2 separate regions of the Homo sapiens genome follow, and region 2 is linked to region 1. Evidence: fine-mapped expression QTL. A gene starts in region 1. The other region holds a variant in brackets. All regions are shown on one strand. Distances are between the middles of the regions.

Region 1 (16,843 bases):
ACACAGCAGGGCAAAATAAAAACTCAAAGGTGAAACACAGCGGAAGAGGATGGAAGGAGAACCCTAAACTGGAAGTGCAGAGATGGAGGGGAGGGTTGGGGCTGCAGGGATGCTTTGTCATGGAAACCACAGTGCCAGTTGTTGCCTTGGAAACCACAGCACATCGTGTTGTCATGGAAACCACTGTAATGATTCCTGTTAAGGGTGCTTGAACTATTTTTAAATCAGCTAGCAATCACTGTGGCTCTTTAATGGGAGAGCAGGCAGGCAGCTGACTCCACTTCACACACACACGCACACACACATATACACACATAGTTGTACCTTTATAATATTTAGGCTGAGGCAAAATTAATTGCAGTTTTTGCCATTGAAAGTAATGGCAAAAACATGGCCAGATGCAATGAAATGGCTCATGCCTGTAATCCCAGCACTTTGGGAGGCTGAGGCGGGAGGATCACTTGAGCTCAGGAGTTTGAGAGCCTGGCCAACATGATGAAACCCTATCTCTACTAAAAGTACAAAAATTAGCCAGGTGTGGTGGTGCACGCCTGTAGTCCCAGCTACTTGAGAGGCTGAGGCAGGAGAATTGCTTGAACCTGGGAGGCAGAGGTTGCAGTGCGCCACTGTACTCCAGCCTAGGAGACAGAGCAAGACTCTGTCTCAAAAAAAAAAAAAAAAAAAAAAAAAAAAAAAAAAAAACCAGGTGTAGTGGCTCATGCCTGTCATCCCAGCACTTTGGGAGGCTGAGGCGGGTGAATCACCTGAGGTCGGGAGTTCGAGACCAGCCTGACTAACATGGAGAAACCCTGTCTCTACTAAAGATGCAAAATTAGCCAGGTGTGGTGGCACATGCCTGTAGTCCCAGCTACCTGGGAGGCTGAGTCAAGAGGACTGCCTGAGCCCAGGAGATGAAGGCTGCGGTGAGCTGTGATTAAGCCACTGCACTCCAGCCTGGGTGACAGAGTGAGACCCCATCTCATAAAATAAAATAAAATAAAATAAAATAAAATAAAATAAAATAAAATAAAAATTGTGGAATATTCCAAACTCAAAGTCAAGAATAGAGAATTGACTGGGCACGGTGGCTCATGCCTATAATTCCAGAACTTTGGGAGGCTGAGACAGGAGTTGGAGACCATCTTACCCAACATAGTGATACCCTGGCCCTACAAAAAAATTTTAAAAATTAGCTGGGCGTGGTGGTGCATGCCTGTGGTCCCAGCTACTCAGGAGGCTGAGGCAGGAGGCTCGCTTGTGCCCAGGAGGTTGAGTCTGTAGTGAGTTGTGATCCTGCCACTGCACTGTAGCCTGGGAGATAGAGCAAGATCCTGTCTCAAGAAGAAAAAAAGCTGGGTGTGGTGGCTCATGCCTGTAATCCTAGCACTTTGGGAGGCCGAGGCGGGCGGATCACGGGGTCAGAAGATCGAGACCATCCTGGCTAACATGGTGAAACCTCATCTCTACTAAAAATACAAAAAATTAGCCGGGCGTGGTGGCGGGCACCTGTAGTCTCAGCTATTTGGGAGGCTGAGGCAGGAGAATGGCGTGAACCCGGGAGGTGGAGCTTACAGTGAGCCGAGATCGCGCCACTGCAAGCCAGCCTGGGTGACAGAGCGAGACTCCGTCTTAAAACAAAACAAAACAAAACAAAGTACAAAAATTTGCCAGGCATAGTGGCGGGTCCCTGTAATCCCAGCTACTTGAGAGGTTGAGGCAGGAGAACTGCTTGAACCCAGGAGGCAGAGGCTGCAGTGAGCCGAGGTCGCGCCACTGCACTCCAGCCTGGGTGACAAAGTGAGACTCAGTCTCGAAAAAAAAAGAATTGATATTTATATAACTAATCCTCATGCATCCCGTGCCATTCTTCATCAAATCTTAATACTATGCTAAATTTATTTACACCTTTTTTTTTTTTTTTTTTTTTTTTTTAGCATTATTGGCTGGACTCAGCAGCTCATGTCTGTAATCCCAGCACTTTGGGAGGCCGAGGCAGGCGGATCACTTGAGGTCAGCAGTTTGAGACCAGCCTGGGCAACATGGGGAAACCCCTTCTCTACTAAAAATACAAAAATTAGCTCAGCATGGTGGCACGTGCCTGTAATCACGGCTACTCAGGAGGCTAAGGTAGGAGAATCGTTTGAACCCTGCAGGTGGAGGCTGAGTGCGCCACTGCACTCCAGCCTGGGGGACAGAGTAAGACTCTGTCTCAGAAAAAAAAAAAAAAAGAGATTTATATAATTAACCCTTATGTATCCCTTGCCATTCTTTATTAAATCTTAATACTATGCTAAATTTATTTACACATCTTTAAACAAAATTATTGTTTAAATAGGCTGTGTCCTACCTCCCATATGACTTGCCCTCTTCTTCTCCCCAGAGATAGTCACTTGGAGGATTATTGCATTTAAAAATCCAGTATTTATCAAAACTCAGTGTCTGTCATTCCCTTGCATGCCAAAATAAATAACTGAAAAAGAGAGAAGAAAAAACAGACAGTGTCTAATTCTAACTGAGTCACTGTGTGACTCAGTTTCCACTGCAGCAACTTTGTCTGCAGCCTGGATCACAAACAAGCTCCCGCATTTGTAAAACTACTTGGCAAACATAGCAAAAGCCTCTGAGATTCAGCAAACATCCATTCCATTTCATTTTAGTTATGATGTTTTACAATCCACTGCTGGTATAAATTTACTTTTTATCCTGTCTAGATTGACGATTTTCTTCTTCTTCTTTTATTTTTTTATTATTATTTTTTTTTGGTCTGACAAATCCTTAGCAGAATTTTCAAACACACTGAGATGTTTTGTTTTCTCTTTGAAGAGAAAGTTCCAGAACTTTGATTCTGTGCTCATGCACTGGGGTTGGGTGGCATTCCTGAAGGGGCAGCCAGGACTGTTAGGAATATTGGCTCTGCAGAAAGCTGAAACCTGGCTTTTGAGGCAAAGCTGAAGGCATCTCTCTCCCTCCCTTGCCCCCCATCTCTCCATTCTGTAACGCATTATTTGTTCACTTTTGTAGTAAAATACACATAACATAAAATTCACTATTTTAACCTATATTTATTTTTCAAAAAATAATTTACTTTTTTTTTTTGTTTGTGAGACGGAGTTTCACTCTTGTTGCCCAGGCTGGAGTGCAATGGCACAATCTCAGCTCACCGCAACCTCCGCCTCCTGGGTTCAAGCGATTCTCCTGCCTTAGCCTCCCAAGTACCTGGGATTACAGGCATGCACCACTATGCCCGGCTAATTTTTGTATTAGTAGTAGACACAGGGTTTCTCCATGTTGGTCAGGCTGGTCTTGAACCCCTGATCTCAGGTGAGCTGCCTGCCTTGGCCTCCCACAGTGCTGGGATTACAGGCGTGAGCCATCGTGCCCAGCCCGTCTTCATTTTTCTACCTTCACTCCTACTAGCGTTCCTGGACCCAGATGTCCTGGATGCAGAGGTCCCTCCTGTTACGGTGGTAGACGCATCTCATTCCCATGGGGGTCCCAAATACTTCTCTAGAGTAACTTTTTTTTTTTTTTTTTTTTTTGAGACGGAGTCTTGCTCTGTCGCCCAGGCTAGAGTGCAGTGGCGTGATCTCGGCTCACTGCAAGCTCTGCCTCCCGAGTTCACGCCATTCTCCTGCCTCAGCCTCCTGAGTAGCTGGGACTACAGGCGCCCGCCACCACGCCCGGCTAATTTTTGTTGTTGTTGTTGTATTTTTAGTAGAGACAGGGTTTCACCATGTTAGCCAGGGTGGTCTCGATCTCCTGACCCACGATCCGCCCGCCTTGGCCTCCCAAAGTGCTGGGATTACAGGCGTGAGCCCGCGCCGGCCTCTCTTTCTTTTTTTGAGACGAAGTCTCGCTCTTGTCCCCCAGGCTGGAATGCCATGGTGCAGCCTCGGCTCACCATGTTGGCCAGGCCATTCTCCTGCCTCAGCCTCCCGAGTAGCTGCGATTACAGGAGCTTGCCACCAGGCCCGGCTAATTTTTTTGGATTTTTAGTAGAGACGGGGTTTCACCATGTTAGCCAGGATGGTCTCGATCTCCTGACGTCCAGATCCACCCGCCTCAACCTCCCAAAGGGTGGGATTACAGACGTGAGCCACCGCGCCCAGCCTCACAGGAACACTCTTGTTCTTGCATCCTTGAGCTTCCAAATAAGAAGTTCAACGATCTACCCTCTGGTTTTCATGCTGTGAGGAAGCCCAAGCCACATCAGTGCTTCCATCAACATTTCCCAGCTGAGCCCAGCTTTCAAAGGATTTCAGCCCAGGCACCAGACATGTGAGTGAAGAAACTCCCAGATGATTCTAGCTCTCAGTCATTTGAGTCACCCCCAACTGTCACGGGTACGACTAGGTGCGGCGGGTGTTGTGGGCAGTAAAGGTATTTACCAAGACAGTTGTAGGTAAAGAAAGGCAGATTTATTAGAGAAGATATGAAAATACATTGCACGGTTGCAATGGGCAGCACAGCAGAGAAGGGGGCTGTCTGCAAAAAGGCAGGGACTGGAAGTTTCATAGGGGTATGCTGGAGGGGGCTACATGCAGAAAGAGGTCATTGTGCCCATGGGGGATTGTGATTAGCCATCTCTCAGAAAAATTGTTCATTGTTCTTCCCAACCTGGAATGCTGTGAACCCGGGAGGTGGGGCTTGCAGTGAGCCGAGATTGCGCCACTGCACTCCAGCCTGGGCGACAGAGCGAGACTCTGTCTCAAAAAAGAAAAAAAAAAAGTGTTCCAGTGAATGAGGAAGAAGCTGCGTGCCCTTCTGTAACATAGTCTGAGAAGCCACATAGCTTCCTTTCCACTAAACTCCATTGGTTAAAGTAGTCACAAGTCTGCTCAGATTCACGAGGAGGGGACACAGATCGTCACTTCTCAATAGAAGTGTCGGAGAATTTATGGCTATGTTTTTAAACCACTGCCTAAAAATATACACTCATTCTTCCACTGATATGTAGAATTTCAACATATAAAGCACATGAGATTTAAAGACTTTAATCATAGCTAGAGTGTTTATTGGAATATTCGGTGTGAATTATGTGAATAATCAGAGGTTAACGATTTGAATGACACAACTTTTTAGCACAAAATATGATGGAAACTTGGGCAATCACACAAGTATTGATGATGCCCAAATTTAGGAATGCCAGAGATGACAGTGAAATGAACATTTGGCTATTTGGCCTTGCAAATGTCAGTTTCAAAAATGAACCCAAAGAACAGATTTTGGTTGAATACCAAGGCCCAAATTGTACTTCCATGCATCTTTCAGATGAGATCCCCCCGAATCTTCAAAACTTCCAAATCAGGAAGATTTTTTATTAGAATTCCTATTACAGAGAAAAGAAATAAGCTCAGCGGGGTCAAATTATTTCTCTAAGATCACACAGCCAGGAAGGGACATTGGTAGGTGGATCAGTGAGGGACTGGCAAAAAAAAAAAAAAAAAAACAGATGGCCAGTCCAACCGAGTCTCATAGGAGTGCTTAATTAATTAGTTTATTTTTTTTGAGACAGGGTCTCCTGGGTTCAAGCAATCCTCCCACCTCAGCCTCCCGAATAGCTGAGACCACAGGTGACCCCTATCACACCTGGCTAATTTTTTGCGTTTTTGGTAGGGACGGGGTTTTGCCATGTTGCCCAGGATGGTCTCGAACTCCCCAGCTCAAGTGATCCGCCCTCCTCAGCCTCCCAAAGTGTTGGGATTACATGCGTGAGCCACAGCACTGGGCATTAATAAACTATTAACAAAGTTCTTGCTCATGGGCAGCAAGGTTGAGGTAGGAGGCCCAGGGGACTCCACTGAGGATCACATTGAAGACTGGCCAAAACCTGGAAAAGGCACCGAAAGCCTCTCTCCATAAGACATGCCTGCCAGCACCATGACAGTTTACCATTGCCATGGCAACACCCATAAGTTACTGCCAATTTGCTAATTCTGAAAACCCACCCCTTAATTAGCACGTCATTAAAAGTGGGTATAAATGTGACTGCAGCCTTGCCCCGAGGTGCTATTCTCAGCACACTGCCTAGAGGGTAGCCCTCCTTGTTAGGTTTTGGAGGGAAGGTGAGGGTTAAAGACACACAGACAGAAGGCGGCTCAACAGCAACTCAGGTATACTGCAGACACCTGTGGAAGTGGGTAACCAGCCTAATGCCAGAGCCCACTGCTGCTTATAGGCTGGGGGTACTTATAGTTATGGGTGGGAGGGGTCTGAGCAGTATGGTTTGCTGCCCAGCAGGATGTTGATAAGATGGTTCCATGATGAGGCGGTTCTGGCCCTTGTTCTGGTGGAATGTGGTGTTCTCTGCACTTTCTCCCAGCAGAATATGATAGGGATGTTTCTTCAGTTGGGCCTTTGCACGATAGGGTATGATAATGTTTCTTTAGCTGGGCCTTTGTCCGCCTTGTGGTCAGGTGATTAGGCAGGATGTTTCTCATTGGCCCGAACCCCCGTGGAATATTTCACTTTGACCAAGATCTGCAAAATAGTCAGGGCTTACAAAATGGTTGCAGTTTGGACTAACACTTCTCTGTAGGGGCAGTCACTGAGCTGTAACATTGTCCCCTGCCTGGAGGATGCCAAGAACCTGCCCTGAATCACGTTGAGGAAACAAGAAAAGGCGAGGCATTATCCTCATGCTAGAAGGGGTCGGGGAGGAGACTAAGAAATTTCTAGAAGTTTCTGGAAATTCCTGGAAGAACCCAGCAGCTTGTAAGAGAGAAGGCTACAAGCCCAACAGGAACTGCACCTGCTGTTGGAGGAACCCAAGAAGATTAAAGCCTCGTTTTCCTCCTTTCTTGATTTCTAGTGTCTCCCAAGAGTTGCGTTGGGTGAATCCAACAGGTGGGGCAGAGGATAATACAGTCAGTGGGTGCAGCCATAGGTGTTGGCGCTTCTCATCGACCTAACCCCCGTTCGCGAGGCCCACTTGGGTTGAAAGAGGGCCTCCGTGGAGGCGCCACCGGAGTGTATCCAGACCCGCTTGCTCTGCGACCTGAACAGGCCACTCTTGCACCCGGCTCCCTAGGTCCAATTGCAGCGCCGGCGCGCCGGCCGGGCTCAGCCCTAGCAACCCACGCCCGGTTGCCATGGAGACGTCGGCACCTGCGCAGCCCAAGACCCCCGAGCGGCGGTGCGGGAGCCAGTGCGCAGGCGCGCGCTGCGACGCCAACCTCGGCTTCTCGCCGCTAACGGCATCGAGTCTGGACGCCCCGTGACCCGCCTGGGCCGGAGCGGGGGCGGACGGCGCCTTCTTGGCCCTTTCTGCCTCTAGCAGCGGCGCCGGGGTAGCCGGAGCCAGCGACTGGGAAACGGCTGCATTCCACTGCGTCTCCTTGGCCTGGCTGGGCGGTCGGAGGCTGATCTGCCAAGTAAGTCCCGGCTGGGCAGGCGGAGCGTCAGGCCCGGGGGAGGGTCCTAGGGCCTTTTGCTGCAGATTCAGGGACACGTGTGAGCACCGGGGCCTGGGTTGGGGAGGAGGGTGTTGGGAAAGCGCCAGGCCTCCTGCAGGCCAGCCGCGGAGGGGGCAGCTAGGATCTGTGAGCTTGGTCATCTTCCTGGGAACGTGACCTCGCTCCCTTGTCACCTTGCAGGATTACTGTTTGGAGACCGCTGCAGCCCACGTCCACCTGATAGACTATTTACTACACATAGTAGGTTCAGAGCCGCTAAATGTCCAAGACCATGGCGATGAACCTTCTGGAGGATTGGTGCAGGGGAATGGAAGTGGACATCCACAGGTCCTTGTTGGTCACAGGCATCCCAGAGGACTGTGGGCAGGCAGAAATTGAGGAGACCTTGAATGGGGTCCTCTCCCCACTGGGCCCGTACCGCGTGCTCAACAAGATTTTTGTGAGGGAAGAGAATGTTAAAGCTGCCCTCATTGAGGTTGGTGAAGGTGTGAATCTGAGCACCATCCCCCGTGAATTCCCAGGAAGGGGTGGTGTCTGGAGAGTGGTCTGTAGAGACCCTACCCAGGATGCCGAGTTTTTAAAAAATCTGAATGAATTCCTGGATGCCGAGGGGCGCACCTGGGAGGATGTGGTCCGCCTGCTCCAGCTCAACCACCCCACCCTGTCCCAGAACCAGCATCAGCCCCCAGAGAACTGGGCAGAAGCTCTGGGGGTGCTTCTGGGAGCAGTGGTGCAGATCATCTTCTGCATGGATGCCGAGATCCGCAGCCGGGAGGAAGCCAGGGCCCAGGAGGCCGCTGAATTCGAGGAGATGGCAGCCTGGGCTTTAGCAGCAGGGAGGAAGGTGAAGAAAGAACCGGGGCTTGCAGCAGAGGTGGGTTCTGCCTTAAAGGCAGAGACCCCCAACAACTGGAATGCCACGGAAGACCAGCATGAGCCTACCAAACCTTTGGTTCGCAGGGCTGGAGCTAAGTCTCGCTCCAGGAGAAAGAAGCAGAAGAAGAACTCCAGGCAGGAAGCAGTGCCCTGGAAAAAACCCAAAGGCATCAATTCCAACAGCACAGCTAACTTGGAGGATCCTGAGGTGGGTGATGCTGAAAGCATGGCGATCTCAGAGCCGATCAAGGGCAGCAGAAAGCCCTGTGTGAATAAGGAGGAGTTGGCTTTGAAGAAGCCCATGGCGAAATGTGCCTGGAAGGGTCCCAGAGAGCCACCTCAGGATGCCCGGGCAGAAGCCGAGAGCCCAGGAGGCGCCTCTGAGTCAGACCAAGATGGTGGCCATGAAAGCCCACCAAAGAAGAAGGCCGTGGCCTGGGTGTCTGCCAAGAACCCCGCTCCCATGAGGAAGAAGAAGAAGGTGAGCTTGGGCCCTGTCTCCTACGTCTTGGTTGACTCAGAAGATGGCAGGAAGAAGCCGGTGATGCCAAAGAAAGGGCCAGGCTCAAGAAGGGAGGCATCAGATCAGAAGGCCCCTCGGGGCCAGCAGCCTGCCGAGGCAACAGCCTCAACCTCTAGGGGTCCGAAGGCCAAGCCAGAAGGCTCTCCTCGGCGTGCCACCAATGGTGAGAATGATAGCAGAAGTGACTGGGCTCGTGCCAGCAAGTGGATGAGGCAGGAGGAGCAGGAGTGGCAGGTGGGGCAGAGGAGCCCGAGGAGGTGGTGGGTCAAGCGGGTGATGAGGAGGACCCTGGTGCATGGCAGGAGGTGGATGACACACCAGTTGAGGAGGGTAAGAGCCCAGACCGCCCTTCCAGGAGCCCCTGAAGGCCGATGCTGGAGACATCTGGTGGGCAGGAGGTGGCAGAGGAAACCCACAATGAGTGTCACTGTGGTCATTTGCCACTCCATCTGACCCATCTTCCTTGATGAGAATTTAATGGTTTGGGCCCAGGCTTGGTGGCTCATGCCTGTAATCCCAGCACTTTGGGAAGCCAAGGTGGGCAGATCGCCTGAGGTCAGGAGTTCAAGACCAGCCTGGCCAACATGGTGAAACCCCGTCTCTACTAAAAATACAAAAAATTAGCCGGGTGTGGTGCCACATACCTGTAATCCCAGCTACTCGGGAGGCTGAGGCAGGAGAATCTCTTGAACCCGGGAGGTGGAGGTTGCAGTGAGCCTAGATTGTGCCACTGCCCTCCAGCCTGGGTGACGAGAGTGAGACTCTTGTCTCCAAAAAAAAAAAAAAGAATTTAATGATTTGGGAGGCCAAGGCAGACAGATCACCTGAGGTCAGGAGTTCGAGACCAGCCTGGCCAACATGGTGAAACCCCATCTCTACTAAAAATACAAAAATTAGCTGGGCATGGTGGTTTGTGCCTGTAATCCCAGCTACTGGGGAGGCCAAGGCCTGGGATTGGCCTCCAGACATCTGCCCACCAGATGTCTCCAGCATCGGCCTTCAGGGGCTCCTGGAAGGGCGGTCTGGGCTCTTACCCTCCCTGAACCTGGGAGGTGGAGGTTGCAGGGAGCCAAGATCACACTGCTGCACTCCAGCCTGGGCGATAGAGTGAAACCCTGTTCCCCCCTCCCCCCAAAAAAAATATTAATACTTTGGAGTTATGGTGTTTGCAGGGTATGTGGCTTTAAGGGTGAAGTTTTCTAGAGACCTGGCTGGGGAATAGAAATGTTCAGGGACCCAGAAATTTCTTGGAAGTAATGCATTTCCTAATGACACCTCTCTGCTTCCCTTCTTGATCTGTTCTCTCATTTATTTGCAGAATCCAGAAAGGTTTGATCTGGGGGACCACCCATACTGAGGAGTTGAAAGAACAAGGAAGAAGTACCAAGTCAACCAAGTTCTCTCTTGTCACTGAATAAGACTTTGGACTCTCTTAGGGCCCCTGTTGATAGAGATCTGGCCCTGAGGTAAACGATAGGTGAGGTCTTGGGTGGGAGGGAGTTGGGGAAGGGAGGTGGATCTCTATGCCCTTTTCTCTACCAGGCCTGCCGTTTCACCGCCTTCTCTACTCACCTTCTCTTCGGAGGCAGGAGAGTTGGTAAGAGGATTGGGAAAATTCTAGAACATTCATTCCCCTTTATGCATGAGCAGGGTCACTGTTACACTCATCCATGTTCAGCTTTTCTCCCCCACGCCTTGCTCCCTCCTCGGAATGGTCAGCGACCTCTGCAGGCCCTGGCATTTGGAAGAGCTGGGTGGCCCTGCCATATTCTTCCTCCCGCCTTCCTCTCGTGTAACCAGCGGGGTAAGTTAAGCCAGGACCTTCGCTGCAAACCTGGTTTTATTGCTCCTTCAGTCTCCAGCTTCCATCCTCCAGTTATCTAGCCAGGAGGTCCCAAGAGTTAGTTTTAGGGAAAAAGAATGTCTGCCTAGACCTCAAAGTCTTTGAGTTTTAGAGTCTGTTAGTAAAAATGGCACTTTGATTCCCATTTGGGATGAGCCCTCTCAGGAATCCTGTGGGGAAGGGGGGTGATTATAGGGAAGGACGCAGGCATTCCTAGGTCCCCAGCTCTAATTCCATCCATCTACCCAACTGTCACCATCTTTGCACCAAACTGTCACCATCTTTGCAGCAGAAGGTCACTACTCACATTATAGTAAGAGGGGAAAAAAATCTTTTAAAACTTGGCTGTTGGCCGGGCACGGTGGCTCACGCCTGTAATCCCAGCACTTTGGGAGGCTGAGGCAGGTCGATCACGAGGTCAGGCGTTTAAGACCAGCTTGACCAACATGGTGAAACCCCATCTCTACAAAAATTAGCTGGGCGTGGTGGCGCGCGCCTGTAATCCCAGCTACTCAGGAGGCTGAGGCAGATGAATTGCTTGAATCCAGGAGGCAGAGGTTGCAATGAGCCGAGATTGTGCCACGGCACTCCAGCCTGGGCAGCAGAGTGAGACTCTCTCTCAAAAAAACAAAACTTGGCTGTTAATGTCTGCCCTCTGAATTCAGACACACTATATTAGACCAGACCACCATGTGTCATTGTGTGTGTGTGTGTGTGTGTTTGCGTGCGCATGTGTAGAGGAGAGAGCAGGGTCCCTGAGATAATGGTTTCCAAACTGTATCGTAGCCGTCCACAAAGATGTAATCCAAATCTATTTTTCTCACGTGTTTAAAAAACTGAAAAGTGACTACTCAGATATGTTGGAAGTCACATCGAAGACTATCAGAATATTACCTTGTGTTCATAGGTTAACTTGTTTTTGTACACGTCTTAGTTATTTCAGGCATCTCTTTGCTTAAAATTGAGTTTCTTGTAAATGTGACTGATGAGCGAGGTTAGAAGTGGAAGAAATTCCTGTGCATGTTCTATAATCTGACACCCTGAAAGCAAGTTTCCTTTCGTCATTCACATGCTCTTGTTCTGCCGTGACTGTTCAGGTGTATGGTAGTAAGTAAATGTATTAACATGGTGAACAGTAGTAATATTCTATCATAGAGTATTAGCCCTTGCAAGTTTTCAGGGCGTCTTTTCCGACTTCAGTTTTTGTGATAAAGAATGTGAACAGTTGTTAGATGTTCTCAGTGATTCAACTTTAAAACAAATTTCTCGTGATGATTCATTTCAAAATCCTGAGTGAGTCTGACTGAAAAATACGAGAGAAAAGAGAGTGGTTTCCGTTTGCAGCTACACAGCTGTGTGCATCGACGTTCTCCTGGGGTGTGTGCCAAGCGAAACCCAGGGGTGAATTGGATTCTTGAAGAGACCAAAGCCTGTAACTGTCCAGCTTCTAATTTCAAAACGGGTCCATTAGGGCTTCGTTGTGTTAACAAGTTGACACCATGACTAGTAAATGTAAACGTGTATGTATAAAATAAAGTTTAGCAAATTAAGTGTCCTGTTAAGTCTCTTGTAGGTGAGGATTGCATGGACTATTAAATTTGAGGAAAGGGTTCCCCTTTCCTCAAACAGTGCCCCCAGCCAGATGTGACTGGTTATCAGATACGGGTTCAAGCTTTGAGAATTGTTAATGATCCATGAGAGAAGAAGCCGTTTGTCCTCTTTGCGAATGGCTTTCCACTGATGTGGAAGGATGTCCCACAGATCTTGGGGTTTCTAGAATAGGTATCTGGTGACGCAAATTACCTCAAAGTACCAGTTTATTTTTTTATAAACAGCTGGAAAATGAAAACCTTTCCCTCCCTTCCTATTCCCTCACACAGAAGCCAAGGTCTTTTTTTTTTTTTTTTTTTGAGATGGAGTTTCGCTCTGTCACCCAGGTGGGAGTGCAGTGGCACAGTCTCAGCCCACTGCAGCCTCTACCTCCTGGGCTCAAGTGATCTGCCCACCTCGGCCTCCCAAAGCGTTGGGATTACAGGTGTAAGCCACCATGCCAAGCCAGAAGCTGAGGTCTTTTAGCTAAAAATATAGTTTTCTTCTGGCCCTCCCCTGCCCCTCCCCAGGAACTCCTGAACCAGGGTGGCCACTACATCAGTCACTTGGAATCTGTTCAAGGTACCATTTCGTGGCTCTACCTGCTGATTCAGGATCTCTTCGGGGTTGTACATAGTTATCTGCGTCTTAAACAGTTTCTCCTGAGAATTTTTTTTTTTTTTTTTTGAGACGGAGTCTCGCTCTGTCTCCTAGGCTGGAGTGCAGTATCATGATCTCAGCTCACTGCAACCTCTGCCTCCCGGGTTCAAGCGATTCTCCTGCCTCAGCCTCCCAAGTAGCTGGGACTACAGGGGTGCGCCACCACGCCCAGCTAATATTTTTGTATTTTTTTTAGTAGAGATGGAGTTTCACCATGTTGGCCAGGATGGCCTCGATCTCTGATCTCTTGACCTCGTGATCCGCCCACCTCAGCCTCCCAAAGTGCTGGGATGACAGGCGTGAGCCACCACGCCCAGCCAAGAATTCTATTAATAATACAGGTTGGAGAGCTTCAGGTGGAATAATTCAGACTTGGGGAAACGGAAGTGTCCTTAGGGGTCCAGGTTGAGGTTTTGTGAAAGTGAATGGAGATTATGAGGAAAGATGCGAAAGAGACCAAAAGGGAAGCTGGGATTTGAGGACGCGGAGCTCGTTAGGAACTGCCGTGTACTCATAGAAGCATCTGGATGAAGCTCTATTTATTGGGTGCCCCCACACCCCCACAATGGGAAAAGCCCTATTTGACCAAGATGTTTAAGTACCTCCCACAATAATAGTCACTCCTACTGGTTACACCCAGGCTGTCAGTAAAGTATGAAAGGCCTACGTGCCCTAAAAATGGGGGGAATCCAAGGTTGGGGCACATGAAAGCTCTCTTCAAAGAAACCTCATCGCCCCGGGTGGAGGTGTTCTGTTCAGGGGTGCGTCTGGGGAGGCGCTGGCCCGGAGTGTTTGCAGGAAGATGGAGAGCTGTGGATGCCACCAGCAGGGCTCGAGGGCAAAGTGTCCTGGTTGCCCATGCTGCCATTCAAGCAAGGTTCGTTGAGAATCTGCTGTACGACAGCCAGGAGCAAGACAGAGTCCTGGCTTCCTGGAGCCTGACGTTTGAGTGAGGACAGACCTTATATAGACACAGGTGGAGGGGTGGGGAGCTCTGCCGTGAAAAATATAACAGGAAGATAGGCAGGCAAGGTGAGTGTGCAGAAACGGCTGGCTGTCGCTTACAATGGTTGGGGGAGCCTCTCTGGGAACTGGATGTCTGAACAGACCTGAAGGGGGTGAGGGGTGAGACAAGCAGTTGGCCAAGAACGGCCTCCTGGGCAGAGGGAACAGTCATCGTGGAGGGAGGCTCTAATCTGTTTCAGAAAGTGAGTAAGGCTGGGCGCAGTGGCTCACACCTGTAATCCCAGCACTTTGGGAGGCCAAGGCGGGCAGATCACCTGAGGTCAGGAGTTCAAGACCAGCCTGGCCAACATGGTGAAACCCCATCTCTACTAAAAATACAAAAAAATTAGCCAGGTGTGATGGCGCGTGCCTGTGGTCCCAGCTACTTGGGAGGCTGAGGCAGGAGAATTGCTTGAACCCAGGAGGTTGAGACTGCAGTGAGCTGAGATCGCACCACTGCACTCCAGCCTGGGCGACAGAGCAAGACTCTGTCTCAAAAAAATAAAAATAAAAAAGCAAGGAGGAGGTGAGGAGCAAGAGGGCAGGGGGCTTTGGAGGCTGGTGTGCAAAGCCCCACAGGTGCGGCCAGGATGGATTCCAGCTTTAATCTGAGAGATGGGAGCCATGGGAGGGTGCTGAACACAGCGTCAGGATCCTACATAGGTTGTTTCCAGGCTCCCCCTGGAAGCCTGGTGGGGAACAGACTGCAGAGGGTGAGGTGGCAGCTGGGAGCCTAGTGGGGAGGTGACAGTAGCTGGACCCAGGAGGCCCAAGAAAAAGCTGCCCATTTGGGGATCTGGTTAGCAGAGCTGCCAAGGAGAAAGAAGTGGGTTGTGTTGATTTACTTATTCATTTATTCCTTTTTTTTACATTTTCATTTTTTAGTTAAAATAAAACATTTATATACAGTGAAATGGACAGATCTTAAGTGAACGGTCTGATAAGGATAAGTTTGGACATAGGCAGGCACCTGTGTAACCCACCCCTGCGACAAGTTACAGAACAATATCATCATCCTAGAAAGCCTCCCTGTGCCCCTTCCCAGTCGGTCCCCGCCGCAGCTCTCAGAGGTGAGCACTGTAATGATTTTTCCAGCCAAAGCTCAGTGTGTCTGTCCCAGGAGTGCTGTAAGTGGAGTCATACAGCATATGGTTTTTTTGGTGTCTGGCTTCTTTTCCTCAGCATAGTGTTTTTGTTTGTTTTGTTTTTGTTTTTGTTTTTTAGGGAGTTTCACTCTTTTTGCCCAGGCTGGAGTGCAATGGCGCCATCTCGGCTCACTGCAACCTCCGCCTCCCGGGTTCAAGTGATTCTCCTGCCTCAGCCTCCCGAGTAGCTGGGATTACAGGTGCCCACCACCACGCCTGGCTAATTTTGTAGTTTTAGTAGAGACAGAGTTTCTCCATGTTGGCCAGGCTGGTCTCAAACTCCTGACCTCAGGTGACCCGCCCACCTCAGCCTCCCAAAGTGCTGGGATTACAGGCGTGAGCCACCACGCCCCGGCCTTTTTTTTTTTTTTTTTTTTTGAGACAGCATCTCACTCTGTTGCTCAGGCTGGAGTGCAGTGGCACAGTCTTGGCTCACTGCAACCTCCGCCTGCCAGGTTCAAGCGATTCTCCTGCCTCAGCCTCCCAAGTAGCTGGGACTACAGGTGTGCACCACCACGCCCGGCTAATTTTTGTATCTTTCATAGAGACGGGGTTTCATCATGTTGCCCAGGCTGTTCTCGAACTCCTGGCCTCACGTGATCCACCCGCCTCAGCCTCCCAAAGTGCTGTGATTACAGGTGTGAGCCACCGTGCCCGGCCAGCATCGTGTTTTTGAGATTCATGTGTGTTTGAGTAGTATTTTCAATTATTTAAAAACAAAATTTTTTTAAGAGTCAGGCTCTTGCTCCATCATGTAGGCTGGAGTGCAATTGTGTGGTCACAGCTCACTGCAGCCTCAAACTCCTGGGCTTAAATGATCTTCCTGAGTAGCTAGGACTGCAGATGCGCACCACCATGCCCAGCTAACTTTTTTTTTTTGGTAGAGATGAGGTCTCACTATGTTGCCCAGGCTGGTCTTGAATGCCTGGCCTCAAACAATCCTCCTGCCTCAGTCTTTTGAAGTGCTGGGATTACAGGCATGAGACACTGTGCCCCACCACGACCTACATATTTTTAAATTACTTTTTTTGTTTGTTTGTTTTTTGAGATGGAGTCTCGCTCTGTTGCCCAGGCTGGACTGCAGTGGTGCGATCTCAGCTCACTGCAAGCTCTGCCTCCTGGGTTCACACCATTCTCCTGTCTCAGCCTCCCGAGTAGCTGGGACTACAGGCACCCGTCACCATGCCCGGCTAATTTTTTTTTTTTTTTTGTATTTTTAGTAGAGATGGGGTTTCACTGTGTTAGCCAGGATGGTCTTGATCTCCTGACCTCGTGATCTGCCCGCCTCAGCCTCCCAAAGTGCTAAGATTACAGGCATGAGCCACCGCACCCGGCCAATTTACTTTTTAATATTTTCCCCACATTAAAAAATAAAACATCACAGACTTTTTAAATTTTATTTATTTAATTTTTTTTTGAGACAGGGTCTTGCTCTTCACCCAGGCTCAAGTGCAGTGGCGTGATCTTGGCTCATGGCAGCCTTGACTTTCCAGGCTCAAGCCATCCTCTTATATCAGCCCCTCTGCAAGTAGCTGGGACTACAGGTGCAAACCACCATGCCCAGCTATTTTTGTATTTTTTGGTAGAAACAGGGTTTTGCCATGTTGCCCAGGCTGACTGCAGACTTTTAAAAGCACCCAAATGCATTATTCAAGCAACATTAGCCACTGTGGTCAGATTAACGATAATGCAATAATTTTTTTCTGTTCATCTCTGTTTTAGATTTGCACTTTTTGTAATGGTATGAACAATTAAGAGGATTAGGGAACTGTGCTGGTCTGTGCTA
Region 2 (13,029 bases), 290 kb before region 1:
TATCTTGCTTTTCTACATAGACACAGTAACAGTCTGATCTCTCTTTTTCTTTTCCCCACACAGGCACCTGCCACCAGGCCTGGCTAATTTTTGTATTTTTTGTAGAGACGGGGTTTTGTCATGTTGGCCAGGCTGGTCCCGAAATCCCGACCGCAGGTGATTTGCCTCAGCCTCCCAAAGTGCTGGGATTACAGGAGTGAGCCACCACTGTGCCTGGCCATGCCCAGCTATTTTTAATTAGAAAAGGTTTTTGTTTTTGTTTTGTTTTGTTTTGTAAACAAGGGATCTCACTATGTTGCCCAGGCTGGTCTGGAACTCCCAGGCCAAAGTGTTGGGATTACAGGCATGCACCACTGCACCCAGCCACTGCTTTTTTTTTTTTTTTTTTTTTGAGATGAAGTCTCGCTCTTGTCCCCCAGGCTGGAGTGCAATGATGTGATCTCAGCTCACTGCAACCTCCACTTCCCGGGTTCAAGCGATTCTCCTGCCTCAGCCTCCCGAATAGCTGGGATTACAGGTGCCTGCCACCACGCCCGGCTAATTTTTGTATTTTTTTTTTTAGTAGAGATGGGGTTTCACCATGTTGGCCAGGATGGTCTCCAACTCCTGACCTCAGGTGATCCACCCACCTCAGCCTCCCAAGGTGCTGGGATTACAGGCATGAGCCACTGTGCCCAGTGTCAAACATTTTTTAAAACCAGTGGCTGGGTGGCTGGGCGCAGTGGCTCATGCCTGTAATCCCAGCACTTTGGGAGGCCGAAGCAGGTGGATCATCTCAGGTTAGTAGTTTGAGACCAGCTTGGCCAACATAGTGGAACCCCGTCTCTACTAAAAATGTAAAAAATTATCTGGACATTTGTAGTTTCAGCTACTCAGGAGCCTGAGGTGGGAGAATCGCTTGAGCCCAGGAGGCGGAGGTTGCAGTGAGCTGAGATCTTGCCACCGCACTCCAGCCTGGGCAACAGAGTGAGACTCTATCTCAAAGCTAACTAACAAACAGACAGTGGACTGTCATTAAAATGAAACCTGTGCAAATCTTGGGTGAAAGATGAAAACGGTGGGGTGGGGGCCCTCCTCTGCCACCTCCTCCAAATACTGGAACTTGGAATCTGGAACCCACCAATGTGGCCCCTGCACCCCGCAGGTGGAGAAACCCGGATGCCAGGCCAGGCCTGACGGGCGGTGATACATTAAGAGCCTCATTCACTGGGGAGCTTGAGCACTTTGGGTTCCATGGGGTTGGCTCCGGCCTGGCGGTGGGGATCCCTGGGCCTGCTGAGGGGTGCAGGAGCCCGGGTTGGTGCAAGGAGCTGGGCTCCAGTCACATACAGAACAAGCCACTTTATTTCCTTCCCCTGCTACGCCCTCCTTCTGCCCGTCATATCCCACATTCAAGCTACCAGAAATCTCAGTTTCTCTGCCCTCAAACCCCAAATCTGGCCCCTCTACACCTTCCACACTGGGTACCACCCTGGCCAGCTGCCATCATCTCCCACCTGAACTATTGCAATTGCCTTCACGCCGGGACTCCTGAGCCCCAACCTCTTCCGTCTGTTCCCCATATGGCCTCCAGAGGGCGCCTGTTTCCATCATGGCAGCTCGTGGCCCTCCGCAGCTCAGAACCCAGAGAAAAATCCAAGGTGCTCCCCATAGCCTCTGTAGGATGCGCCTTACTTCACCGACCTCACCTCTTCCCACTCTCCTCCTCCCTCTCTTACTCCAGCCTCTGCCATTCCTTGAACATGCCAGGCCTGCTGGTGCCTCAGGGCCTTTGCACAGGCTGTTCCTCTCTTGGCTGCTCTGCCCCCCAGATTTCCATTTGGCTCTTCCCACACCTCCCTCTCGACTTGGCTGCAATGTCACCTCAGTGAGCCTTCTCTGACCGCTTTATTTAATTCTACCACCCCTGCTTCCTGCCCCCACCCTCACCCACCCAACCCATACCCTATTCTACCCTTTTCTCTTTTTTTTTTTTTTTCTGAGACGGAGTCTCGCTCTGTCGCCCAGGCTGGAGTGCAGTGGCACGATCTCGGCTCATTGCAAGCTCCGCCTCCCGGGTTCACGCCATTCTCCTGCCTCAGCCTCCCGAGTAGCTGGGACTACAGGCGCCCGCCACCACACCCGGCTTTTTTTTTTTTTTTTTTTGTATTTTTAGTAGAGACGGGGGTTTCACCATGTTAGCCAGGATAGTCTCGATCTCCTGACCTCGTGATCTGCCCACCTCAGGCCTCCCAAAGTTCTGGGATTACAGGCGTGAGCCACCACGCCCAGCCCTTTTCCTCTTTTTTTTTTTTTTTTTTTTTTTTTTTATTAAGAGATGGGGTCTTGGGCAGACGCAGTGGCTCATGCCTGTAATCTGTGCACTTAGGGAGGCTGAGGCAGGCAGATCACTTGATGCCAGGAGTTCAAGACCGGCCTGGCCAACATGGCGAAACCCTGTCTCTACTACAAATACAAAAATTAGCCAGGTGTCGTGGTACACGCCTGTAATCCCAGCTCTTTAGGAGACCGAGACAGGTGGATCACTCGCTGTCAGGAGTTCGAGAGATGTGGCAAAAACCTGTCTCTACTAAAAATACAAAGATTAGCTGGGTGTAGTGGCGGGCGCCTGTTATCCCAGCTACTCGGGAGGCTGAGGCATGAGAATTGTTGAACCCGGGAGGCAGAGGTTGCAGTGAGCCAAGATCGCGCCACTGCACTCCAGCCTGGGAGACAGAGATAGACCCTGTCACAAACAAACAAACAAACAAACAAACAAACAGAGATGGGGTCTTGCTCTATGGCCCAGGCTGGCCAGGCTCATACTCCTGAGCTCAAGCAATCCTCCCACCTCGGCCTCCCAAAGTACTGGGATTACAGGCATAAGCCACCACGCCAGGCCTGCTCTACTTTTTTTTTTTTTTTTTAAAGACAGGGTCTTGCTCTGTTGCCCAGGCTGGAATGCAGTTTCATGATCACAGCTCATTTCAGCTTTGACCTCCCAGGCTCAAGTGACACTCCCACCTCAGCCTCCTAAGTAGCTGGGACTATAGGCCCATGCTACCCTGCCCAGCTATTTTTTTTTCTTAATTTTTGTTTTTTGTAGCGACACAGTCTCTGTATGTTGTCCAGGCTGGTTTTGAACTCCTGGGCTGAAAGGATCCTCCCACCTACGCCTCCCAAAGTGCTGGGATTATAGTTGTGAACCACCGTGCCCTGCCCTGTTCTCCTTTTTTAATAGCAACAGTCCCCTCCCAACAGACGATAGAATTCACTGGTTTATGATGTTTATTGTTTCCTGCCTGTCCCCACTGGGAAGGTCACTCTGTGGGGGAACCATCTTTGAATTGTTCACTGCTGTAGGCTCAGAGTCTAGCATAGGGTCCGGTGCATGCGTATAGCAGGAGCTCAATAAACACTCGTGGAATGGTGGAAGAGGCTGGTTCAGTCTCGACTCTGCTGCCTGGCAACTATGTGACCTTGGATGAGCACTGCCAGGTCTCACCCGCCGGTGACAATGGCTCTCTTATGCCTCACCCAAAGGCTGCTAGTGCAGGTTACGTAAGAGCAGAAGAAAAGGCACTTTGACGGTCACTCCCTGGGTCCCAGTTCCCAGCTCCCACCTTTCTCTCCCTTTCTCCATTGCCCCACCCACCCCTCTTGCCTCTTTGAAGGAGCTTGGCCCAGGAAGGAGGGCCCAGGCTGGCCCCGGATTAGGGTTGGTCCTGGGTTCTAGGCTCAGAGTGGCAGTATGGGGACAGAAAGGCAGAGGGCAGTGACTCAGTTTTGTCTCTCTTAGAGACAGGTCAATGTTCTTAGGCCTGTTGGATTCTGCCCCCATCTGCTCTTTTTGAGGTCAACTTTATTGAGGTATAATTTACATACAATAGGCCGGGCAAGGTGGCTCACACCTGTAATCCTAGCACTTTGGGAGGTCAAGGCAAATCATTTGAGGCCAGGAGTTCAAGACCAGCCTGGCCAACATGGTGAAACTCCATCTCCACTAAAAATACAAAAATTAACCAGGTGTGGTTGTGCACACCTGTAATCCCAGCTACTCAGGTGGCTGAGGCATGAGAATCACTTGAATCCAGAAGGTAGAGGTTGCAGTGAGCCAAGACTGCACCACTGCACTCTAGCCTGGGCAACAGAGCAAGGCTGGCTCCAAAAAAATTGTTTCATATGATAAATTGCACCCGTTAAAATCAATTAGGCCAGGCTCATGCCTGTAATTCCAGCACTTTGAGAGGCCGAGGCAGAAGGATCGCTTGAGCCCAGGAGTTTGAGACCAGCCTGAGCAATGCTGCGAGACCCTGTCTCAAAATAAATAAATAAATAAATAAAATACAGTTAAATGAGTTTTGACAGATGAATATACTGTGAAAAACCACTCCCATAATCAAGATACATGATATTCTCATCATCCCCAAATTTCCTCATGCTTCTTTGCAGTCTGCCCCTCTCTCCAGCTCCAGGCCCCGGTAACCACTGATCTGCTTTTGGTCACTATGAATTAGTTTTACCTCTTCTAGAATTTTACATTGGTGGAATCATATACTATGTAGCGTCTTGCATCTGGCTTTTTTTTATGTGTCATAATGCTTTTGGGATTTATTCTTATTTTTGCATGTATCAGTAGTTTGTTCTTTCTTTTCTTTTCTTTTTTTTTTTTTGAGATGGAGTTTCACTCTTGTTGCCCAGACTGGAGTGCAATGGCACAATCTCGGCTCACTACAACCTCCGCCTCCCGAGTTCAAGTGATTCTCCTGCCTTGGCCTCCCAAGTGGCTGGGATTACAGGCATGTGCCACCATGCCCAGCTAATTTTGTATTTTTAGTAGAGACAGGGTTTTGCCATGTTGGTCAGGCTGGTCTTGAACTCCCGACCTCAGGTGATCGGCCCGCCTCGACCTCCCAAAGTGCTGGGATTACAGGCGTGAGCCACCACGTCCGGCCCAGTTCTTTCCTTTTTTAAAAAACTTGCTAAGGAGTATTATGTTGTCTGAGTGTACCACAGTTTGCTTATCCACCCACCTGTTGATTTACATCTGATGGTTTCCAGGTTGGGGCTATTGTGCATAAAGGTGCATTTGTAGACAGGTTTTTTATTTTTTATTTACCTTATTTTATTTTTGAGACAGAATCTTGCTCTGTTGCCCAGGCTGGAGTGCAGTGGTGCAATCTCGGCTCACTGCAACCTCCACCTCCCAGGTTCAAGCAATTCTCCTGCCTCAGCTTCCTGAGTAGCTGGGATTACAGGCACCCACCATCACGCCCGGCTAATTTTTGTATTTTTAGTAGGGATGGGGTTTCACCATGTTGTTCAGGCTGGTCTTGAACTCCTGACCTCAAGTAATCCGCCCTCTTCGGCCTCCCAAAGTGCTGGGATTACAGGTGTGAGCCGCCACACCTGGCTAATTTTTGTATTTTTAGTAGAGACGTGGTTTCACCATGTTGACTGGGCTGGTCTCAAACTCCTGACCTCAAGTGATCTGCCCGCCTCAGCCTCCCAAAGTGCTGGGATTACAGGCATGAGCCACTCGCCCCTCCTAAATTTTTTTGGTAGAGACAGGGTCTCAACATATTACCCTGGGTGGCCTCCACCTCCTGGGCTCATGTGATCCTCCAGCCTTGGTCTTCCAAAGCGTTGGGATTACAGGCATTAGCCACCACACCTGGCTAATGTAGACAGGTCTTTACATGCCACTATTGTTCATAGCAAATATTTTGTAACATGTAGGGCTGATAGACAAAATATTTACTGCTTGGCAAAGTCATCAGTCCATCCAACATCCGGGATATGGGTCCCTCTTATCTCCCACTATACCCAGTTTAACCCCTGGACTTCTGGGCCAGAGGGCAGCCCAGGGGATCCCCAGGGAGAGCTAGGAGGATACTAATAGTCAGGGGGTTCATGGCAGTGACCGTTTATGAATGAGTAAATAATCCATAATTTAGTGTTTTGCTGTCTTAACCACTGGCGTGGCCATACCAGGGCGTGTGCTGGCTTGAATGTCAGTTCTGGGAAAGTTCTCTCTGTTCTCCTGAAATGAAGTTCATAGACAGTATAACCCACTGGCACATGATTTAACATGATTTAAGAAAATCCTACTTTGGGAGGCCAAGGTGGGCAGATCACTCGAGTCCAGGAATTTGAGACCAGCCTGAGCAACATGGTGAAACCCCATCTCTACTTAAAATACACACACACACACACACACACACACACACACACGTATTTTTAGTAGAGATGGGGTTTCACCATGTTGGCCAGGCTGGTCTCGAACTCCTGACCTCAAGTAATCCATCCGCCTTGGCCTCCCAAACTGCTGGCATTACAGGCGTGCGACACCGCACCTAGCTAATTTTTGTATTTTTAGTAGAGACATTATATATATAAATATATTTATATATATATATATATAAAAGCTGGGTGTGGTAGTACTTATCTGTAGTCCCAGCTACTCGGGAGGCTGAGGTGGGAGAATCGCCTGAGCCTGGGAAGTTGAGGCTGCAGTGAGCCAAGACTGTGCCACTGCACTGCAGCCTGGGTGACAGAGTGAGACCCTGTCTCAGAAACAACAACAACAGCAGCAGCAACAAAAACGATCCTTGATTGCCCTAAATGTAATAAAAAGGAGAAATAAGAACATAGTAACTTACAATAAGCATTTCATTATGCGGATGTGTGGAGCCAGTCCCCTAGAACCCAAGGAGGTAGGCAGATGTTTATGCCTGTAATATAGACAGTTCCAACACATTGAAAACACGTGGACTGGTGTCCAATTACCAAGAGCCATGTGCAATGTGAGTTTTTTCACATGGTGGACAACCTTTGGCCAAGTTTTGAACAAAACACGATACAAGCTTCCCTCATTTTTTGTGGTAGTTGCACTTCCTGGAAGATTCCGAGGCTATTTAAAAACAAAAAGGACTTTGTACGTACAAGAGAGAGATTTTTGGCCAGGGTTTTCACCTCCAAGTAAGGCTAAAATTTAGTTGGTCTGAACTAGTATGGAAATACTGTTCTTTCTTGTTTGTTTTTGAGACAGAGTCTCGCTCTGTCACCCAGGCTGGAGTGCAGTGGCATGATCTTGGCTCACTGCAACCTCCGCCTCCTGGGTTCAAGCGATTCTCCTGCCTCAGCCTCCTGAGTAGCTGGGACTACAGGCGCCCACCACCATGCCCGGCTAGTTTTTGTATTTTTAGTAGAGACAGGGTTTCACCATATTGGCCAGGCTGGTCTTGAACTCCTGACCTTGTGATCCACCCACCTCGGCCTCCCAAAGTGCTAGGATTACAGGCGTGAGTCACCATACTTGGCCAATACTGGTTGTTAAAATACTGAAATACTTCTGACTGGATAATAATAGTACAAGAGTAGTTGAGAAAGCACTGAAATTCAATACATATTTGAATAAAAATGAATTAGTTCAAGTTAATTGTGACAGATCTTTGTCATATCATAACTTAGGTGATAATAAGGATTTTTGTTTTTTTGAGACAGGGTCTCACTCTGTTGCCCAAGCTGGAATGCAGTGACATGATCATGGCTCACTGTAGCCTTGACCTCCTGGGCTCAGGTGATCCTCCCACCTCAGCATCCTGAGTAGCTGGGACTGCAGGGGTGCACCACCACGCCCAGCTAATTGCTGTATTTTTAGTAGAGACATGGTTTTGCCTTGTTGGCCAGGCTGGTCTTGAACTCCTGGCTTCAAGTGATCTGCCCGCCTCAGCCTCCCAAAGTGGTGGGATTACAGGCATGAGCCACCCCGCCTGGCCCCTAGTCTGGTCTTGAACTCCTGGGCTCAAGCAATTCACCTGCCTCGGCCTTCCAAAGTGCTGGGATTAATGGTGTAAACCACCACGCCCTGCTCAATTTTTGAAATGTTTTGTAGAGATGAGGGTCTCTCTATGTTGCCCAGGCTGGTCTCGAATTCCTGGCTTCAAGCCATCCTCCTGTCTTGGCCTCCCAAGGTGCTGGGATTACACTATGCCTGGCCTAAAATATTTTAAAAATTTGATGCATACATTGACATATACTAATTTATATTACAGTACCAGTGGCAAAACATTTTGAATATTACCCTTCCTTCGTGAATGTCCAATGAGACATCTGGAAGCTGCATGAGACAAGGGATGATGCTGTACTGTGTGGAGATTCCTGAATATTACAAGACATCTGCATCCCTGGACCACGTCTGCCAAGAGCCAAGAGCAGCTTCCAGTCATGATGATAATGCAAATCATCCCCATGCATTCCAGAATCCTCCCTGTGGACCTGCCAAGTCTCTTTGTGAACCATTTTTGGGTTCAGTGGTTAAA[A/T]GCAGGGGTTGGGTTACAAGAAGTCAGGCTTTGGATGTCTGAGCCTCAGGAGACTCGGCCAAACAGTAATCTTCTCTTGCTGGTCTATGAAGCCTCCTCCTCCCAGGAATGTACAATTGTGAAATATTACCAATCTCCCCAGTTTACAGGTTCAGAGAGGCAGCGACTTGTCTGAGAGTACAAAGAAACCAAGTGGCCAAGCCAGGATTCAAACCCAGCCAGACTCTGGGCCCCTTTACCGCGAACACACTCCTGTGGGAGGAGCGATCTCATTGCTTCCACTTCCCAAATGCAAGGTGGGGGCGCAGAGACAGAGTCAATAGAGGCCCTGGGAGAAGGTGGCAGCACTGGGAAACCCGGTCCTCTCCAACCTCAAGCCCATGTCTTTTCTTTTTTTCTTTTTTTTTGTGGGGGGATGGGATAATGCTCTGTTGCCGAGGCTGGAGTGCAGAGGTGCAATCAGAGCTCACTGCAGTCTTGATCTCCTAGGCTTAAGCAATCCTCCTGCCTCAGCCTCCCCAGTAGCTAGGACTACAGGTGCATGCCATTATGCCTGGCTGATATGGTTTGGCTGTGTTTCCACCCAAATCTCATCTCGAATTGTAGTTCTGATAATCCCCATGTGTCGTGGGAGGGACTGGGTGCGAGGTAATTGAATCATGGGGGCAGTTACCCCCATGCTATTCTCGTGATAGTGAGTTCTCATGAGATCTAATGGTTTTATAAGGAACTTTCCCCTTTTGCTTGGAACTTCTTCTTCCTGCCATCACAAGATGTGTTTGCTTCCCCTTCTGCCATGATTGTAAGTTTCATGAGGCCTCCCCAGCCGTGCTGAACTGTGGGTCGATTAAACCTTTCCTCCTTTATAAATTACCCAGTCTCAGGTAGGTCTTTATTAGTAGCATGAGAAGGGACTAAAACAGTGGCTATTTTTTTATTATTTTGTAGAGACAGGGGATCTCGCTATGTTGCCCAGGCTGATCTTGAACTCTTGGCCTTAAAGGATCCTCCAATTTTGGCTTCCGAAAGTACCGGGATTACAGGCATGAGCCACTGTGCCCAGTCCTTGCTTATTTTTAACATTTTGCCTCTTATTTATTATTTTATTTTTTTGAGATGGAGTCTTGCTCTGTTGCTCAGGCTGGAGGGCGGTGGCACAATCTTGGCTCACTGCAAGCTCCGCCTCCCGGGTTCATGCCATTCTCCTGCCTCAGCCTCCTGAGTAGCTGGGACTACAGGTGCCCGCCACCATGTCCAGCTAATTTTTTGTATTTTTAGTAGAGACGGAGTTTCACTGTGTTAGCCAGGATGGTCTCGATCTCTTGACCTTGTGATCCGTCCGCCTTGGGCTCCCAAAGTGTTGGGATTATAGGCGTGAGCCACCATGCCTGGCTTTATTTATTATTTTTAATTGACAAGAGTCTTGCTCTATTGCTCAGGCTGGTCTCGAACTCCCGAGCTCAAGTGTTCCTCCTGTCTCAGCCTCCCAAAAGTGTTGGGATCACAGGCGTGAGCCACCACGCCCGGCCAGCTTTTTTTTTTTTTTTTTAACCCGTGGTCTTGAATGCTGGGTGCTCACACCTGGGTGTGCAAAAGTCATTGGGATGAGGCAAGAAACATAAAAAAAACCCTATTCATATTCATAATTTTAAAATGGAATAATTTAAGCTTTATTACTAACATACAGATAATAGTATCTGTATATATTTATAAATAAATATACACATATTGGGAATACATGCCCAAATACCATTTATTCTTAGGTGCATAATCAAATAAGGAAGGCTGCCATTGCTTTCACCTGCTAAGTGGGTCTCCAAGCCCCTCTTGGGGACCATGACTAGAGAGGGGCATAGTGGGTAAGACAATTGTGGGCTCCAGAGCCTGACCACCTGGGTTCAAGCCCCCGATCTGCCCCTTCCTAAGCTGCCTGACCTTGAGCAAGTGACTTCACGATTCTGGCCTCAGCTTTTTCATCTGTGTAATGAAAATAATAGCAGCTGTCACTTCAGAGGGCTGAGGTGAGGGACGCATTAGTTGATCCAGGTGAAACACTGAGAATGGTGCCTGGTACCCAGTAGGTGCTCAGTGAGTGTGAGCTATGGTTATTGTCTACACTGCCGTGCAAGTGGGGAATTAGGTGCAGACAGCTGAAATAATGAGGTATTAGTCATGAGTGGAGCTGCGATTCAGAAGTCGGTTCTTTTTCTTTTTTAAAAATAGAGACGGGGTCTTGGCATGTTGCCGAGGCTGGTCTCAGACTCCTGGGCTCAAGCGATCCTCCCACCTCGGCCTCCCAAAGTGCTGGGATTACAGGCGTGAGCCCCCGCGCCCGGCCCAGCACCCGGTTCTCGACCACAGCCGCACCTCGGAGCTCTGAGCATTTCCTCCTCTGCAAGACTGAAATACTTCTATTCAGTCTTGAATAGAACAGTTAAGAGTAGCATGCAGGTCACAGGGCTCTCCCAGGAGGGAAGGAGGTCGCAGTCCAAAAGAAGGGGAGGTGGTCACTGCTGTCCGCCTCCCACAGGGGCTTGGAGAGAAGTCCAAAGGCTCAAGAGAGTAGATGGCTATGGAACACAGGCCCTGGGCGTACTGTCGCCCGGGCAGCCACAGTGGGCCACCAGGAGCGGGACCGGCGCGCCCTCTAGTGGCGGAAGCAACCCCTGCAGCCAAGGGTCCCGCATCCTGGAAGCAACTGAGGCACAGAGAGACTGCGACGCCCCCCCAGGCCCACCTGGCTCCGAAGCGATAGAGCCAGGATTTGAATCTCGCCAGTCTGGCTCCAGAGCCTGCACTGTTTCCAAAACTCTGCCCCTGCCCTAGAGCGCAGGGCTCTCGGAATCTTGGGCAGAACACTTTTTTCGGGTCTGGGGCTGTGCTGGGCCCTGCGGGACGGCGTGACATCCCCGTCTCCCTCCATGACTGAGATGACCCAGGATGTCCCCACGCATATCCACGGCTCCCAGTGGGCATGACCATTTGATAAATCTGGAGGTCGCTTCCCATCCTCGTCCTGGTGCTCTCCTCCTGCCAATGCCAGCCTTCTCTCATGCTCTCCTTAGAATTTCTTTCTTGGTCAGTTTCCCCCTTCCCCTCTCCGCGACATCCCTCCACCCCTCACCGCTCACACAGAGCTTCTCCACATCCAGACAGACCCCCGAAAAACAAAGGCGAGGTTATCAGGGCTTCAGCCGCTTCCCGTCAGACTCAGCAGTGCCGGGTTGGGGTACTGGGGGTTCTCGATGACCCCGGGCCCGAACTTGAGCTCCAGGAAGCGGCGGTAGTTGTTAGGCGCCTGCGCCACGAAGCCGGCAAAGGGCAGGGGCACCAGCGGCTGCAGGAAGTGCTCGGGAAACTCCACATCCTGCCGGTGGTCCAGCCACGTGTCCTTGGTCATGACGCCATTGCGGGGGTAGAAGGGCCACAGGTCCACGTGCAAGTGGTTGCTTTCGCTGTACTGCACGCGGAAAAAGTCGCCCTCGACCGCCTTCTCCCATACGAAGCCGCGCTCATCCACCACCGAGCCGGCCTCTGCCCCCCGCAGCTGCTCGCAGTTGCCCACGTCCTCCAAGTAGATGCCCAGGTCCACGTCGTAGTCCCATGGGATGATGTCCCCGTGGCGGGCGGCCCCCAGCAGTGAGCCGCCCTCGAGCCAGTAGCGCACGCCCGCAGCCTCCAGCACGCCCACCACATAGCGGGCGGTCTCGCGCAGCGCGCGCAGGCAGCAGGGGGGCGTCCAGCGCTCCTCGTAGAGGTAGGCGGGCGTGTCGCCCACCACGGTTCCGAAGCAGCGCGTGGTCTCCTTGTTGCAGCCGAACCACTCCAGCCGCCCGCCTTCCCAGCTCACTAGGCGGATGCCCAGCGCGCGGAGCAGCGCCGCCCGCCGAGCGCGTCCCTCGCGCTCAGCCTTCCAGCGCGCGTGGGCCGTGGCCAGCGGGGGCTGGCGCGCCGCGGCGAAGGTCAAGTCCAGCAGCTGCACCGCCCAGCCGCGAAGGGCGGTCTGCAGAAAGAGGCTGGTGCCCACCGGCCGGGCCAGGGGCGCCGAGAGGTTGAAGAGGTCGCGGGCGCGCAGGAGCACCACAGCATCTCCGTCCAGGGCGTCGCAGCGGGGCGCGGCGGGGGCTGCGCCATAGCGGGCGGTCCACTCTCGCAGGCTGACGTTCAGGGCCAGGCACCTGGCAGGGTTGGCCGTGGCAACCGGGGCGGCCACCAGACGTGCGCTTCCTGCGCGGAGCGCCTCCACCATGCGCTCCAGCAGGCCAGGTGCCTCAGCCCGCGCCCCATCAGGTACTAGGGCCACAAACTCGGTGGCCACGTAGGTCTCCGGGCGCGAGGCTGCGGCTGGCCGGTCCAGGGCGGGCTGGAGCAGCGCCAGACGCACGTTGGGGATGCGGGGCAGGGCCAGGGGCGGGTAGGGGAGCGTGTCGGCTGCCACCACCACGGGCTGGGCTGGGTCTTGCTGCAGGAAGGAGTCTACCAGCTCGGGCACCGCGTTGTCAAATGCCTCGAACTCCCGCACCAGGACGGTGACACGGGGGCCGGCAGCAGAGGCACGACGGGGCCCCCGGGCCCGGGAATTCCTAGGCTGGTGCTGCAGCCACGAGACATAGAAGAGGACCAGAAGGTTGAGGGTGATGGCGGCCGCCAGGGCAGCCTGGCAGCGGGTGAGCCGCATGGGGCCGAAGTCTGGGGCTAGCTGGGCCTCCGGGGCATCCTGGGGGAG

The links. PIP is the estimated chance that this variant, and not a neighbour inherited with it, causes the effect.
Region 2: its variant is fine-mapped to the expression of PNMA8A in lung (TOPMed, PIP above 0.99).

What each region holds. Positions count from the first base shown.
Region 1 is chr19:46,461,867-46,478,709 of GRCh38, reverse strand. PNMA8A (PNMA family member 8A) reads left to right here and starts at 7,147. Exons shown (of 3, transcript NM_018215.4): 1 at 7,147-7,373; 2 at 7,596-8,977; 3 at 10,133-12,207. The coding sequence starts at 7,675. The coding sequence ends at 10,149.
Region 2 is chr19:46,755,403-46,768,431 of GRCh38, reverse strand. FKRP (fukutin related protein) reads right to left here. Exons shown (of 4, transcript NM_024301.5): 4 at 9,857-13,020. The coding sequence starts at 12,981. The coding sequence ends at 11,494. Among named protein-coding and RNA genes, the nearest start is that of STRN4, 15 kb to the right of the region's middle. RefSeq lists a silencer at 6,686-6,980. The variant A/T (reference allele first, on the strand shown) is at 8,304.